2 separate regions of the Homo sapiens genome follow, and region 2 is linked to region 1. Evidence: fine-mapped expression QTL. A gene starts in region 1. The other region holds a variant in brackets. All regions are shown on one strand. Distances are between the middles of the regions.

The links. PIP is the estimated chance that this variant, and not a neighbour inherited with it, causes the effect.
Region 2: its variant is fine-mapped to the expression of VCPIP1 in whole blood (INTERVAL, PIP above 0.99).

Annotation. Positions count from the first base shown.
Region 1 is chr8:66,664,160-66,672,458 of GRCh38, reverse strand. VCPIP1 (valosin containing protein interacting protein 1) reads left to right here and starts at 5,228. Exons shown (of 3, transcript NM_025054.5): 1 at 5,228-8,210. The coding sequence starts at 5,501. It overlaps C8orf44-SGK3 (C8orf44-SGK3 readthrough), which reads right to left and starts at 4,863. Exons shown (of 19, transcript NM_001204173.2): 1 at 4,758-4,863. C8orf44 (chromosome 8 putative open reading frame 44) reads right to left here and starts at 4,863. Exons shown (of 2, transcript NR_161217.1): 1 at 4,758-4,863. RefSeq lists enhancers at 4,631-5,140, 5,511-6,030, 6,281-6,340.
Region 2 is chr8:67,232,361-67,240,703 of GRCh38, reverse strand. It overlaps ARFGEF1 (ARF guanine nucleotide exchange factor 1), which reads left to right. Exons shown (of 39, transcript NM_006421.5): 20 at 414-542; 21 at 1,811-1,969; 22 at 2,211-2,361; 23 at 7,759-7,849. Among named protein-coding and RNA genes, the nearest start is that of ARFGEF1, 110 kb to the left of the region's middle. The variant AATGAAT/T (reference allele first, on the strand shown) is at 3,795.

The sequences.
Region 1 (8,299 bases):
TCCCAAAGAGCTGAGATTACAGGTGTTAGCCTGGCCTTGCTTTGGTTTTAATCCTGATTATGCTACCTACTAGCAATGAGACACTGAACAAGTTACTTAACCTTTCTGTGCCTCAAGTTCTTCATCTGAAAAATAAGAATGATAGTAATGGTACCTGCTTCATAAGGATATTAAAAGGATTAAGTAAATACTACATGTAAAGACCCTGGTGCACAATAGATGCTAAAAAGGTGTTAATAGCTATTATTATTATTATATAATTTTGGTTTCTTAAAAAAGTACATACTATACACACATAGAAAAAAGGAGCTTGAATGGTCCATTAAAAATGTTAGCAATTATAATCTCTGATAGATAATTTTAATTTTCTTTTTAACCTATTTCTGCACATTCTGACAAGCAATTCCTTTTGTATTATAAACAACAGAAACACAACAAGCCTTCCCCAAAAGTGCCCTACAAGTTTGGTAAGCAGTGATTCTCAAAGTGTGATCCTCGCAAGGACTGGCAGCATCTGCAACCAGAGAACTTGCTAGAAATGTAATTCTCAGGCTCCACCTCAGACACACTCATTCTAAGATGGAGCCCAGCAATCTGTGTTTTAGCAAGCCTTCCAGACTGTGATGCACATTAAAGCTTGAGGACTACTGTGCGAAGGAATGACTTGCAGCTCTGTACTCGGTCATTTGTCTCAAGGGGCCCTGGTGTAAGGTCTTAAAGAGTGGAATACTGGCCACTGCTCAAACACATTCACATTAGAAAAAAAAAAAGGCCGGGGACGGTGGCTCAAGCCTGTAATCCCAGCACTTAGGGAGGCCGAGGCAGGCAGATCACGAGGTCAGGAGATCAAGACCATCCTGGCTAACACGGTGAAACCCCATCTCTACTAAAAATACACACAAAAAAATTAGCCGGGCGTGGTGGCAGGCACCTGTAGTCCCAGCTACTCGGGAGGCGGAGGCAGGAGAATGGCGCGAACACGGGAGGCGGAGCTTGCAGTGAGCCGAGATCGCGCCACTGCACTCCAGCCTGGGAGACAGAGCGAGACTCCATCTCAAAAAAAATAAAGTTAAACTCCTGCTGACCCAACAAAACTACATCAAGCCAAGTTTGGCTACTGGTCACCAGTTTGTATTGACTTCTTGCCTAATTCTCTCTCAAATCAGTAAGCAGCTGTGATGTAGTGGAAAGAGTGAGTGCTGAACAAGGAAAACCTTGATTTGAAGCCCAGCTCTATTTCATAGCTGGTGGTAATAAAAACGATGTTAACCTTTTAGAGTTAAATCTTATCCGTATAAGGACAATACTGTATCACAGGAGTGTTTTAAAGATTAAGATGATATACTCAAAACACTGCCCTATAATAAATTGCCCTCAATTAAATTTTCATAGCATTTGTGATATTTCCTGTATTATTTTGATTACATGCTTTATTCTACTTATATTTATGAACAATTTAGTTTAGCCTCCCTCTTCTATTAAACTCTAAGCTTCTTTGAGACAGAGATGAAATTTTGCATCCCTTTAAATTCTTATAATACCTACTTCAATAATTAGTCCCTCCCAAATCCACTTTGAGCTTCAGTCGAAGCTTGTGACTGGAAGTCTGACTATACGTGGCACGGGTCTGGAAGAACACAGTCAATTCTTGGTAAAGATGTATAGTTTATATAGGCAGGTATGTGGCCAACTTACAGCAATCCCCAAAGTTATGATTCCCTTCCTTATATATATAAAATATAAAAGATCAAGAACAATGATGGTTGTTCTGTTGGTAAAAGTGGATGACTTCTGCATTTACATTTACCAAGTTTGTTAAAAGCAATATAGGGAGTTTACAAGTGCCATACTAGAAACTATGAAAAAGATGAATTTCTATTTTAACTGAATTTTGGCAATTTAGGTATTAGTGATGCTGGGGTGATGGTGGTAGAAGAGACGTGTATCAGCACAGCTAATGTCAGAGGCCCAGCTTATTCTTTTCATCTGGACTACTAAAAACAAGAACTATTATCTACCCCACAAAAATCCTGTGAAAGTTAATTAGGTAGTTAAGTTAATCTTCATTAGGCAAGATCATGGAATTTGGGAGGAAAAGAGGAAGGAAGCCTGCAGATCTTGCATAAGCAGGAGAGGCTTTCTACACTCCTCCGGTCTTATAAGAAACAGTATGTCCTATTTTTGACCTAACAATTTTTTTTCTTTGTAGGTATCCATGCCTTCTAAGTGCTAGTAATAAAGAATTAATTCACATATTAAACTTGACATGGTTAATTTCATTGCCCCTTTATGTTAGCTTTCTTTCTGAACTTTGAGTGCATCTACAAACTTATTAAATGATCTAGACAAGCCAGAAAAAGGCTTCTCATTTCTTCAGTGGGGTGGGAAGTGATTATTTTGTCATAGTATGGTTCAGAATGACATATTCAAATACAATTTTAAAAATCTACTTCACTATGTATATGTATCATCAATAAGAAAAATTTGGCCTGGTGTTGTTAAGATATAAAAGTACCTGACAGTGTTAGAATTGCAGACTGTTGTCATCTCATGTGCTACAAAGCTTTAATTCAATTATTTGGATTCTGTATGAGAAAAACTTTCACTGCAGGTGTAACATTTTCGTCACAGCATAAAATAATCTCCACTTAAAGGAGATACCCAATTTCTCTACTTATAAAGCATTCAACTGTTAATAAAAAATCAGTGCCAAAACCAATCTGTGTAGTTACCACCAAACTTGTTAGAATAAACAACTTTTCTTGCATGAATTCTCTGAGAAAAACTTTATTGAAAAATACCCCCTCCGGCCGGGCACGGTAGCTTGCGCCTGTAATCCCAGCACTTTGGGAGGCCGAGGCGGGCGGATCACCTGAGGTCAGGAGTTCAAGACCTGCCTGACCAACATGGAGAAACCCCGTCTCTACTAAAAATACAAAATTAGCTGGGCGTGGTGGCTCATGCCTGTAATCCCAGCTACTCGGCAGGCTGAGGCAAGAGAATGGTTTGAACCTGGGAGGCGGAGGTTGGGGTGAGCCAAGATGACGCCATTGCACTCCAGCCTGGGCAACAAGAGTGAAACTCTGTCTCAAAAAAAAAAAAAAAAAAAGAAAGAAAAATATCCCAAGATAGGAAAAATCACTTCTCTTGTAATTAAGGTCCATTATGGAGGATTTCTCTTTCAAATATTTATTTTCAAGAAAATTGTAGCAATTAGGTGCACATCAAAACTAATACCCTTTATGGGCCTCTATTTTGCAGATGGTTCATTTCAAAGCATCAAGTTCTACATACATACATACACACACACACACACACACACACACACACACACACACAACCTAATCAGGCGGTTTCCTGGGCAGCTACAGAAGACTCAAATGATCTCATGGACTTCACTAATGTTTCTAGTTGGTGCCAAATGTTTCAGAAATTTTGAGGTAGTCCACTTACCTAAGGTGATACTAAACTTCCAGAAAGCAAGAATTTCCGTAATAAGTGAAAGAGGATGAATGTACAAAAATAATACTAGCTTTCAATTAACATATGAATATTGTTCTGTATGAAGAGGCAGTTTCCTACCCAAGTGAAAAAAGAATAAAGCTGTTGCCTCCTTAACATTAAACATCCCTTCATCACTAAGAGGAGACTCTAAGGCCTAGCAAAAGATTTGAGCCTAACATTTTGGGTTTTTTTTTTTTTTTTGAGACGGAGTCTTGCTCTGTCGCCCAGGCTGGAGTGCAGTGGCGTGATCTCGGCTCACTGCAAGCTCCGCCTCCCGGGTTCACGCCATTCTCCTGCCTCGGCCTCCCAAGTAGCTGGGACTACAGGCGCCCGCCACTACGCCCGGCTAATTTTTTTGTATTTTTAGTAGAGACGGGGTTTCACCATGTTAGCCAGGATGGTCTCGATCTCCTGACTTCGTGATGCATCCGCCTCAGCGTCCCAAAGTGCTGGGACTACAGGCGTGAGCCACCGCGCCCGGCCGGGATTTTTTGGTAAGCAGCAGCGTAAAAATCACTCTCAAGGTTTGAGATTGGGATCCAGCATAACTGGTGACTTGACCTTGGGCAAGTCACTTAATTCCTTTTAGTCTCAGTTTCCCTGATTGTAAATGAAGTCAACACCACCTGGTAAAGGTATTACAGGACTGGTGTGAGGATGAGATGATACATGTGAACATATTATTAAATATGTAAACTATAAGGCAATAGTAAGCAAATGCTAGTTACTATTCTATGTAATACAGGCCTAACCTTTCCTGCCTATGTCCTGATCTGTAAAAAGAAGACAGGTTGAGATCTGAATGTCTATCCACTCACTTATCAGCTGCGTGAACTTTAGCAAGTCATTTCCTTTCTGGGCCTGTTTCCTAAGAAGGTTATTTTTTAAGATCAAATGATATCGTGTTATGCAAATGCTGTCCAGACACATATTAAGAACTTAACACATGATGGCTCTTATTATTCTCTGGGGAGTAGGGTGGTAAAGAGCAAATGAAATTAAACCTAGTTAAGAGAATTTGTATATGCACACAAAACTCTACAGACATCCAAGGTACCGTTATTTGCACTGTAAACTGCCAAAACATGCAGGAAACGAGAAATCAAATGGCGCCTCAGTGATTCGCACTAGAGAGGGGGAGAAGGCAGAGCTTCCGAGAATCAACTGTTTTCCCCCTTATGGCCTCCAGCCTAGATTAGACCATTTATTCAACTTCCCAGCCCCCAATATCCCTGGACATTTATTTACTGTACCTTTTTCACTGAGAGCCTTTCCACTCCCCTCCCCTTCTAGTAGTCGTGAACTTCAGACCCTCGCTTCGACTCCCACTGCCATAACTGTTTTTAACCAAGCTTCCCTGAATCCTCCCCTCCGCCTAAGGAGGAAGTGCAGCTAGACGCACCGCACGGCATCCTAGGAAATGTGGTCTCTCAGACTCTTTGCCTTGGGCTGCAGAGTGGGGAAGACGACGAAGGAGAGCCCAGTAAAACTACAACTACCGGCAGGCAACGCGAGTCACCATCTTTCTTTCGCCCCTTTTCCTGTTGCCGTCCTCTTCCTCCTCTCCTCTAGCGCTGAACCGCTTGGCCTCACGGTACTTGTAGTTCCTTCTGGACTCAAGATCCTAGGGCTTGATGGCCAGCACAGAGGCTGGAAGACTCTAATTCCCAGAGGGCAGAGCGGAAGCTGCGCCTGCGCACACTCAATGAGGGCGTGTATGTCTGTGTCTGAGGGAGAGAGAGCGAGAGTGAGTGAGTGTGAGTGCGGGGTGGGGTGGTGGCCGTTACGTTCGGGGCAACGGCTACGGCAGTGGAGAAGTAAGAAGAGAAACAACGTCCGGCGCTTCCGCCTTCGCTTAGGAGGAGGAAGAGCTGGTAGGGAAAGGAAAGTGCTTCGCCCTGGGCCTGGACTGGACCGAGTCGGGTTGGTGGGGGTCTGGGCTATGAGCTTTTGAGGGTCGCCTGGGACGCGGAGCGAGACACGAGAGCCAGGAGCTATGTCTCAGCCGCCGCCGCCGCCGCCTCCGTTGCCGCCGCCACCTCCTCCCCCTGAGGCTCCACAGACTCCGTCGTCCTTGGCGTCGGCGGCTGCTTCGGGGGGGCTTTTGAAGCGGAGAGACCGGAGAATCCTTTCCGGGAGCTGCCCGGATCCGAAGTGTCAGGCGCGTCTATTTTTCCCGGCCTCCGGTTCTGTCAGCATCGAGTGTACCGAGTGCGGCCAGCGGCACGAGCAGCAACAGCTGCTGGGGGTTGAGGAGGTGACCGACCCGGACGTAGTGCTACACAACCTGCTGCGGAACGCGCTGCTCGGGGTTACGGGGGCACCCAAGAAGAACACGGAACTGGTAAAGGTGATGGGCCTTTCCAACTATCACTGCAAATTGTTGTCGCCCATATTAGCTCGCTATGGAATGGACAAACAGACAGGCCGGGCCAAGCTTCTCCGGGACATGAACCAGGGCGAACTGTTCGATTGCGCCTTACTGGGTGACCGCGCCTTCCTCATAGAACCAGAGCATGTTAACACTGTGGGCTATGGCAAGGACCGCTCCGGAAGCCTCCTGTATTTGCATGACACTCTGGAGGACATTAAGCGGGCCAATAAAAGCCAGGAATGTCTCATTCCAGTGCATGTGGACGGGGATGGACACTGCTTGGTGCATGCTGTGTCTCGGGCTCTAGTAGGCCGAGAGCTCTTCTGGCATGCCTTAAGAGAGAATCTTAAACAGCACTTTCAGCAGCACCTGGCCCGATATCAAGCTCTGTTCCATGACTTCATTGATGCTGCTGAGTGGGAGGACATTATCAATGAGTGTGACCCTCTGTTTGTACCACCTGAGGGTGTTCCCTTGGGCCTGAGGAATATCCACATATTTGGTCTTGCCAATGTGCTACATCGTCCTATTATTCTGTTAGATTCCCTCAGTGGCATGAGAAGCTCTGGTGATTATTCAGCCACCTTTCTACCTGGGCTCATCCCTGCAGAGAAGTGCACTGGGAAAGATGGTCATTTGAACAAACCAATCTGTATTGCATGGAGCAGCTCCGGTAGAAACCATTATATCCCCTTGGTAGGCATAAAAGGGGCTGCTTTGCCCAAACTGCCTATGAATTTGCTTCCTAAAGCATGGGGTGTGCCTCAGGACCTTATTAAAAAGTACATAAAACTTGAAGAGGATGGTGGTTGTGTTATTGGAGGTGACAGAAGTTTGCAAGATAAATACTTACTTAGGCTTGTTGCTGCTATGGAAGAAGTCTTTATGGACAAACATGGTATCCATCCTAGTTTGGTTGCTGATGTCCATCAGTATTTCTACAGAAGGACTGGAGTGATAGGAGTTCAGCCTGAGGAAGTCACAGCAGCTGCTAAAAAAGCAGTAATGGATAATCGCCTTCACAAATGTTTGCTCTGTGGTGCCCTTTCTGAACTTCATGTTCCTCCAGAGTGGTTGGCTCCTGGAGGGAAATTGTATAACCTGGCAAAAAGTACTCATGGACAGCTGAGGACTGACAAAAATTACAGCTTTCCCTTGAACAATTTGGTTTGCTCATATGATTCAGTGAAAGATGTTCTGGTACCAGACTATGGAATGAGTAACCTAACAGCTTGTAATTGGTGCCATGGCACATCTGTGCGAAAGGTCAGAGGAGATGGGTCTATTGTGTATTTGGATGGAGACAGAACTAATTCTAGGTCCACTGGTGGCAAATGTGGTTGTGGATTCAAACACTTTTGGGATGGTAAGGAGTATGACAATCTACCAGAAGCTTTCCCTATTACTTTAGAATGGGGTGGAAGAGTGGTCAGAGAAACAGTATATTGGTTCCAGTATGAAAGTGATTCATCTTTGAATAGTAATGTTTACGATGTTGCAATGAAACTTGTTACCAAGCACTTTCCAGGTGAATTTGGGAGTGAAATCCTAGTTCAGAAAGTTGTCCACACTATATTGCATCAGACTGCCAAAAAGAATCCCGATGATTATACTCCTGTAAATATAGATGGTGCTCACGCCCAAAGAGTTGGAGATGTTCAAGGACAAGAATCAGAGTCTCAGCTCCCAACTAAAATTATTCTTACTGGACAGAAAACAAAAACTTTGCACAAGGAGGAGTTAAACATGAGTAAAACTGAAAGAACTATTCAACAGAATATTACGGAACAGGCTTCTGTAATGCAGAAACGGAAAACAGAGAAGTTAAAACAAGAACAAAAAGGGCAACCCAGGACTGTTTCTCCCAGTACCATTCGTGATGGTCCATCCTCTGCACCTGCTACACCTACCAAGGCTCCCTATTCACCGACAACTTCTAAGGAGAAGAAGATCCGAATCACAACTAATGATGGACGACAGTCCATGGTTACCCTTAAGTCTTCAACAACCTTTTTTGAACTTCAGGAAAGTATAGCCAGAGAATTCAACATTCCTCCATATTTACAGTGTATTCGATACGGGTTTCCTCCTAAAGAGTTAATGCCACCACAGGCAGGAATGGAAAAGGAACCAGTTCCTTTACAGCATGGCGACAGAATTACAATAGAAATTCTAAAAAGTAAAGCTGAAGGTGGTCAGTCTGCTGCAGCACACTCAGCCCACACTGTGAAACAAGAAGATATTGCTGTTACTGGTAAACTGTCATCTAAGGAACTTCAGGAGCAAGCTGAAAAAGAAATGTACTCCTTGTGTCTTTTAGCAACATTAATGGGTAAGATGAATTTAATTCTGATGGTATATCTTAATTGTAAATATAATACACTGAGTTTTCCTGTTATCTTTGGGGGAAAAGAAATCTGT
Region 2 (8,343 bases), 570 kb before region 1:
AAGATAATAATGTTGTTTGTTGCAAGTAGGAAAATGATTAACAGGATCTTACTGGAAATAGTGTGAAATATTGCAAGAGACAAAGCTTACAAAGAGAGAGGAGTTCTGAAGTCGGGTAAAACTAATATTTTTATGAATATTGATTATTTCCATTTTTAAATTGATGTGAATAATTTATAGGTACAGTTCTTAAAATATGCCTAAGGTCCTCTATTGAATGTATTATTTTGCTCTCCCATTTATTCAAGCCCAGGCAGCATTATATAGTTTTCCCCCTTTGTTTAAGAAAGCTTTCTAGATAACTGCCAAGAATTTCATTTCTTTTTTTCAGAACTTGTATTGTCTAAAAGATTTGAGAAATTTTAATGTGTTATCATAATCTTTAATTAAAATACAATTTTTAATTTTTGTAGTTGGCTTGGACGCCTTTTCTGGCTGCATTCAGTGTGGGTCTACAAGATTGTGATGATACTGAAGTAGCCTCTCTTTGCCTGGAAGGTATAAGATGTGCAATCAGAATTGCATGCATTTTCAGCATTCAGGTAACAGAGAATTTTGTCTTTGTAGCCAGTTTGGAACATTAATTACCTATGCCATTACAATAGTTTAAATTACAATAATTGTTTATGTGTGACATTAAAAACTAATTTCAAGTTTATGATGGAATTTAAATGAATCTTAATGTTTAAGCTTCTGAGAAGCTGTTATAGAAGGGGTAGTTCTATACTGATCTGTCTAAGTTTATCATTATAACTTTGGTTACAGTTTTTTTTCTCTATTGAAGACTATACAGAAAGTTTTCAAGACTTTGAATTCCTATGTTAATTTGAACATCTTGTTTAAACGAATAAAATATCTTGTTGAATCATAGTTTATATACAAGGTTGTATATATTTTATATGATTTCATAACTTAAGCCTAAGAACAGGTTATCTTTAAGACATGTAAATATTGAATACATAATTTTCATGAAAGAAGTCCTTTCTAGTAATTTATATGCTTTGAGGAACTTTTAAAAAAAGAAAAATTCATTCAACATTTAATTATAAATGCTAATGGCTTGCAAAAAGTATAGCGTAGCTGTGGAGAAAATGAGCAAATGTATAAATCATGTTTTTGCTAATCTAGTAATCAAAACAAAAGTGCTTAATGAATTTTTTTTTTTTACTGTGTGAATTCATTGGTTATCACTAAAAATCTCAATTTGACACCACCACTGCCTTTGGATTTTAGAAATGTATGTCGTTTCTGCTTCATGCATCATCTTAAAATGAATGAAAATAAAAAACTTGTGGAATTATATGTAATTCATGACAAGTAAAACTTACTAAACTTACAAGTTACTGAACTTACGAGTTTAGGAGTGGAGGTTTAATAGGCAAAAGAAAGGGAAAGGAGGGCCAGGCATGGTGGCTCAAGCCTGTAATCCCAGCACTTTGGGAGGTCGAGGCGGGCAGATCACGAGATCAGGAGTTCGAGACCAGCCTGGCCAACATGGTGAAACCCCGTCTCTACTAAAGATACAAAAAATTAGCTTGGCATGGTAGTGGGCGCCTGTAATCCCAGCTACTCGGGAGGCTGAGGCAGAAGAATCATGTGAACCTGGGAGGCGGAGGTCGCAGTGAGCCGAGATTGCGCCATTGAACCCCAGCCTGGGCGACAGGGTGAGACTCTGTCTCAAAAATTAATAAATAAATTAAAAAAAAAAAAAACAAAATCTTACTGAACAAGTAAACAGAGTTTGTTGGTGGGGAATTAATCAGTCTGCTCTATTTAGAACTGTGTAAACATACTTTTCTCTTTTTTATAGCTGGAGAGAGATGCATATGTCCAGGCACTAGCAAGATTTACCTTACTCACAGTGAGTTCCGGTATTACTGAAATGAAACAGAAGAACATTGACACAATAAAAACACTTATCACAGTGGCTCATACAGATGGAAATTATTTAGGAAATTCATGGCATGAGGTATAAGCACTTTATTTTCAACTTTGCAATTTGGTTTATAAAATGAGCTAATGCTAAATAGTCCATCATTGACATGCCTAAATGTTAGGGGAGAAAATTAGTACATTTCGAATAAGTACGTTTAGCTTTTTAAAATAATCTATAGTGTAGTCTGTGTTTAAGTCCTGGCTGCATATATTTAAATCTTTTTGAAGATATTTTTAACATGGAATTTAACATTTTTTTCCTTTTTGTAATTAAGATTCTGAAGTGCATCAGTCAGTTGGAGCTGGCACAGCTTATAGGAACTGGAGTGAAACCTCGATACATTTCTGGAACAGTGCGAGGCAGAGAAGGATCTCTTACTGGAACAAAAGATCAGGCTCCTGATGAATTTGTGGGTTTAGGGCTAGGTGAGAATTTTTACAAAGTATCAAAAATTGTTTTTAACTTCCTCATTATAAGTCACTTTATTGTAGTAATGAAATATAATTAGAAGGAGAAGATAAAATGCCTTTTGTCTAACCTTATGAGAAAAAGCAAGATGACTAAGGAACTAAATCTTTTTTGCCTGGTCTGGTTTGCAACATTAAATGACCCTTAGTTTCAGGCTTCTCTCTGGTTGTTGGAGAAGGATACAGTGTGTAGAGTTTTTAAATTACTTGCTTTTAAAAATAAGCAGGTAACTTGAATGTGTGAAAGCTGGTATCAGGTAATAGTTGGGGCAACTGGAGAAAGCATTCACATTTAATTGTTAAAGCAATGAGCAGGCCTAACCAGCCTTTCTGCCAGTATGAAACCTCTCCCCATGGCTCCCCATGCGCTCAATATGACCAGGAACTTCCACATTTAAACCAGTAGAACAAAAGAAAACATTAGCAAAAATGGGTAGAGAAGAATGAAAAGCAATACATTTTTTAGTCATAAATGGAAGGAGTTCCACCAGGGAAGAAACAGAGCTTATTAGACTTTGACCTTAAGTATTTCTGGGTTTGAATTCTTCTGTATTTTTTCCTTATTATGTGTAAGTTACTTTAGTTCGCCGAGATTCAATTTCTGCTTTTGCAAACAAAGTAATATCTAATCATAGGATTGTTAGGATTAAATAAGAATATATATGACTGGACTTAGCATAATGGCTGGTATATTCGAAGTTTCTAGATATTCTCTGTCCATCCCTCCCCAACCCCCCACCTCCAACCAATCTGGACGCATTACTTAGAGCAGGAATCTTCTATCTTTTAGTGATTCCTCTGTTGCTGCTAGCAGTGAAAATTCTTAGAAACCCCAAAAGAATTTCAAACTTTATAAAGGATCCATAGGAAAAGAATTAAAAACCAGGACCATGATATGGCTTCAAGTTGGACTGGGGAAAACTAATTCCCAGTGGTAATCAACTGAAGCAGCTAGCAATGCAGTCTGTCCCTCCATGATAGCATAGATGCTATAGTATTGTAAGGTCTGGGAGGTGCAGGTGTAGACTTGATACCTTGGTGATCTAGCAGTAAGATTTAGAACTACCTGAGCACCTGCACAATGATTAGAAGCCCAACTTTATACATTAGAACTGTAATTACTCCATGGGGTAACATGAGATGCAGATGAAAACTATTTTCAGGCAAGGGAAGTGAATGTGCACTGATTGGCTCAGTAACTTTGAAAAGGCCTAGAGAGTGTGGGAATGCCAAAATAATGACAGGTGTTAATTGCTGGGCCTGAGTTTTGGCAAGTAGGACTACAGAATTAGGTTACACTAAAAATAAAACACCAGTGGGATATCTTCTAGAAGTTTTAGTCAAACGAGAAATAATGATACTTGCTGATAATATTTACTGGTATACTTGAA[AATGAAT/T]TAAAATTAATTCATGTACTGTGCTACTTAGGTTGCAAGGATATGAGATGAACTGTCTTCTCCCTTCAGAAAAAGGGAATTTACAGAAAGATACACACATTGAGGCCTAGAAATGAAAAACAGTTCAGGCTTCCAGACCATTCTCAAGACCAGTAACACTTATTTTATGCCTTATTTAGGTTTTCTCTGTTATGTACTTCTCTTTTTGGTCTGCACCATTCTCTGCTCAGTCCTGACTCCATGCTCCATTTTGAATCCACATCCTAGAAGGAGCTAGTCTGTGGACTTGGCCCCTGTTGGGCAGAGCCCTCCCGTTGGGCCGTCCCGTTGGATAACCAGCCAACCCATGTGGCAAATGGCTACCCTTGTCCCCCTGTGCCTACCAAGGTCAGACAGCAGATGCTTTCTGGAGCAGAATGTTGTCATCAGAATTTAAGCTAGAAGAAGATGTGGTACAGTCAAGCCAGTTTAGTCTGCATATACAGTGGATACATATATATATATATATATATATATATATATATATATATATATATATTTTTTTTTTTTTTTTTAACTAATATCTTTTTTTTTTTTTTTTTTTTTTGAGTCACAGTCTCACTCTGTCACCCAGGCTGGAGTGCGGTGGTGCGATCTCAACTCACTGCAACCTCTGCTTCCTGGGTTCAAGTGATTCCCCTGCCTCAGCCTTTTGAGTAGCTGGGATTACAGGGGTGTGCCACCACACCTAGCTAATTTTTTTTGTTGTTTGTTTGTTTGTTTGTTTGTTTTAGTAGAGACAGGGTTTCACCATGTTGGCCAGGTTGATCTTGAACTCCTGACCTCATGTGATCTGCCCGCCTTGGCGTCCCAAAGTGCTGGGATTACAGGTGTGAGCTACTGCGCCCGCCCATATCCTCTTTTATTAATGGTATCTCTGCCGTGAGTATTCCATGTAACCAAGTTGACCGGGTTGAGTATATATTTATCATACTTTCTGACTGATAGAAAAAAAGTCTGTACTTTCACTTTTTGGAAATACGAAACTTTCAGTTATTAAGAATACATAGTAGATAATTATTAGATTTGAATTATATGCATTCTTTTTTTTCTATTTTTTTAAAGACAAGGTCTCACTCTGTTGTTGAGGCTGGAGTGCAGTGGCATGGTCATAGGTCACTGCAGTCTTGAACTCTTGGGCTCAACTTTTTTTTAAATTAAAGTTACTAAAGTAAAAGCCTGTCCCAGGCTTTCACTATGTTTTTTTCCTATTTCAGTATGTTGCCCGGGCTGGTTTCAAACTCCGGGCTTCAGGTGATCCTCTCACCTCGGCCTCCCAAAATGCTAGGACTAGAGGCACGAGCCATGGCACCTGGACTGCATGCTGGTCTTTCAAGAGATACCTTAACATTTAAAAATTCAATGGCTTTGTCACATAAATGTTCAGAGAGTATTCATGACACATAGTTTAAAAAATCTTATTTAACCTAAATATGCCCTCTCTATTGTGATTGCTTTTCTTTCTGCTTTCTTTTCTACATAACCATCCTTCTAGGTCTAGGTTGAATTAGTATTTCATCATACGTGAAGCCTTTCTTGAGCTAACACCCCTATTCTCTTGTGTTGTGTGCTTTTGAGTAAATTTGTTTGACAAAACTGGAACTCTCATTAAGGGATTTCACATATTTGTGAAATGGGTTCTTTGGATTCCAAGACATTTTTTATATTCTTTGATTCCTTTAAATATTTTATTATTAATGATTTTAAATTATATTTAAATATAAAGGACATATTTTGACACGTGTGTGTGTGTGTATATATATACACACACACACACACATATATATATATATACACACATACACATATTTTTTCCCCACAGAACATATATATATTTCCTCTGTGGAAAGGATATCCTGTTGATACACAAAGGAAGTTATCTTATGATTGGCATTGTTTTTTTCTCATAGGTTTTTCTTTGTAAAATTCCTGTAACATGCTGTGCGTGTCAAGTTTGCCTTGACACTATTTCCCTACCACCCCAATACTGTGTCACTTACTTCAGGCTTTCATTCTTGTTCACTTGTATTATAGCAGTAGACTTTTAGTTTATCTCTCTGATTTCAATATTTTTTCCTATTTCAGTATGTTCTCCAGATATTATCAGTGTTGTCTTTTGGAAAATAGATTAGATCATATCAATCTTCTAAAAGACCTAACGGATCCCTGTTTTCGAAAGTAGTACATTAAACCTAAGGGTCAAGGCTCTTCACATTCTTTTTTCTAGTCTGTCTTTTCAGCTTTATCTCCTACTGCTGTTCTTTTCCCTTCTTCCTGGTGTCTGCCAATCCTTCATTATGGCTATACTACCAAGTATGTGAAAACATGATGTACAGTTGTATGTTTCCATTACTTTATATAGCTGCCCCTCTGTCTCAATTGCTTTTCTTTCTCCTTCCTTTTCTACATAGTTACCCTTCTAGGTCCAGGTTGAATTAATATTTCATCATATGTGAAGCCTTTCTATGAGCTAACACCCTGTTCTTGTCCCTATTGAAATTAGTTCTATTTAGCAAACTTTTATTCTATGTAGTTAGTTCATTTCAGCCATGAAGTAGTCATTACATTGCATTGAAGTTCATTATAAACATATCTGTCTCTCCTGGTGTAAATTATTAACTCTGTGAGGACAGGGGTTACATCTTTTTCACATCATTCAGTTCCTAGAATAGAATTTGAGTTCAGCAGGTTTAAATGATATCATCTGTTATGTTTGCATTCAGAAGGGCATTTATTGAGTGTTTGGTCACTCAGGTCAAGTGTTTGTAGAGCACCTGCTTTGGACTTAATTTTGAGTAAGGTAGGAAAGTACAAAAATGAATATTACTTGATTCCTAACCTTAGGAAACTTTATCTGGTTGTGAAGGCAACATTAACACACCTGAAATAATTTATATGCAACTGTATGAACGTAATTCTGATTTGAGTAGTACTTAGCTAAGTAAATGCTTAGTTCAAAGGCAGATGAGAACAATGGAGAGGAACTTTTCATTGAGAACCCAAATTGAGTCTTGGTAGGTAAGTTTTAGATAGTTGAGGGATGGCACATTTTGGCTAGACTGTTGAAGGGAAGTGCTTTAAATGCTAGGGTAAAGAGTTTATATTTTATCTTGTAAGTAACAGTAAGCAGAATGAAGGAGACGATTTAGGAAATAATCTGGCAGGGGGATGAAAGAGAGATTGAAGAGGGAAATAATTAATGGCAGGGAAATCACTCATGAAATGGTTTCAGTAATCTAGGACTGAGATTATGAGGGCCAGAACTAGGTAGGAATGGAAATGAACAGGTGATATGAAAAACAGATCAGAAGAAAAATTTAGTGACTAGTTGAATATTGATAGTGGAAGAGGGGAAGGATATCAAAGGTGATTCTGAAGTTAAGAATTTGAAGACTGGGAATATTGTTATTCTCCTCTCCAACATGTGGAACCAGTTTCAAGGGAAAAGATGAATGATTCTTTTCAATAAAAGGGTGTTAGAAAATACAGGTAGAATTTTCAACTGACCTTTGTAAATAGGGGACTAGAGATTAAATGACAAGGGAAGTCTAAATTTTTGGAGTTGGGATCATCCTCAGAAGGTATCATTGGAACTGAGATTAGTGCTGCATTTCTTTAAACATTAAGGGAAATTATATCTAATATCTATAATTTTGTGATATAAATTCACAGTGCCCCTACTTTGTGTGATCTTTACAAACATAGTTTGTGACTTATAACCATGTGTTGTATACTACTTAGTAAAGTTCATTTGCACATTTGGCCTTGTTCATGTCACTGATATCAAAAGAATTGTTCACCTGAAGCATTCTGTTATTAGGAAAGCAGTTGATTTCAGAAGTATGTTTTAGAACTTGTTAAGTGTATTCTTCTACTGAATTATTTTCAAACTGAAATGACTTTTTTTTATGTGTGGTAGTTGGAGGAAATGTGGACTGGAAACAGATAGCAAGTATTCAGGAATCCATTGGAGAAACCAGTTCTCAGAGTGTTGTTGTTGCTGTAGATAGGTAAGGTATTCATTTTATTCCCTTTTCAGATGATTACTATTTCAGTTCTTTAGCATTTAGGTGTTGGTAAAAAGAAAAATATTATTGCCAAAATCATTTTTCTAAAGTAATATAAAATTATATTGTGATATGCTGTGATTTAGATGATGAAGTACCTATAATTTTGCTTTTTGGATCATAGAATATAAGAAGATGATAAACAGTATGAAAATTTAAGTTACAATAGATACTAATGGGCATTAAGGAAATGGTAACCTCGATGGAAAAGAATACAAATGTTTTATTTTCTCGTAGAAAACTTATTCCCCTTATTATCCCTATTTGAAAATGTTGTGTAGTTTATTTTTCTGGGTCCACAATATAGACTGCATTATGGATGAAATGAAAGGTTTTATTGGCAATTCCCATTATAAACTTTTTTGGAAAGGACTTCAGAATTTATATATTATACACATCACCACATATTCCCCATTTTTAGTTTGTTTTCTAAAAGA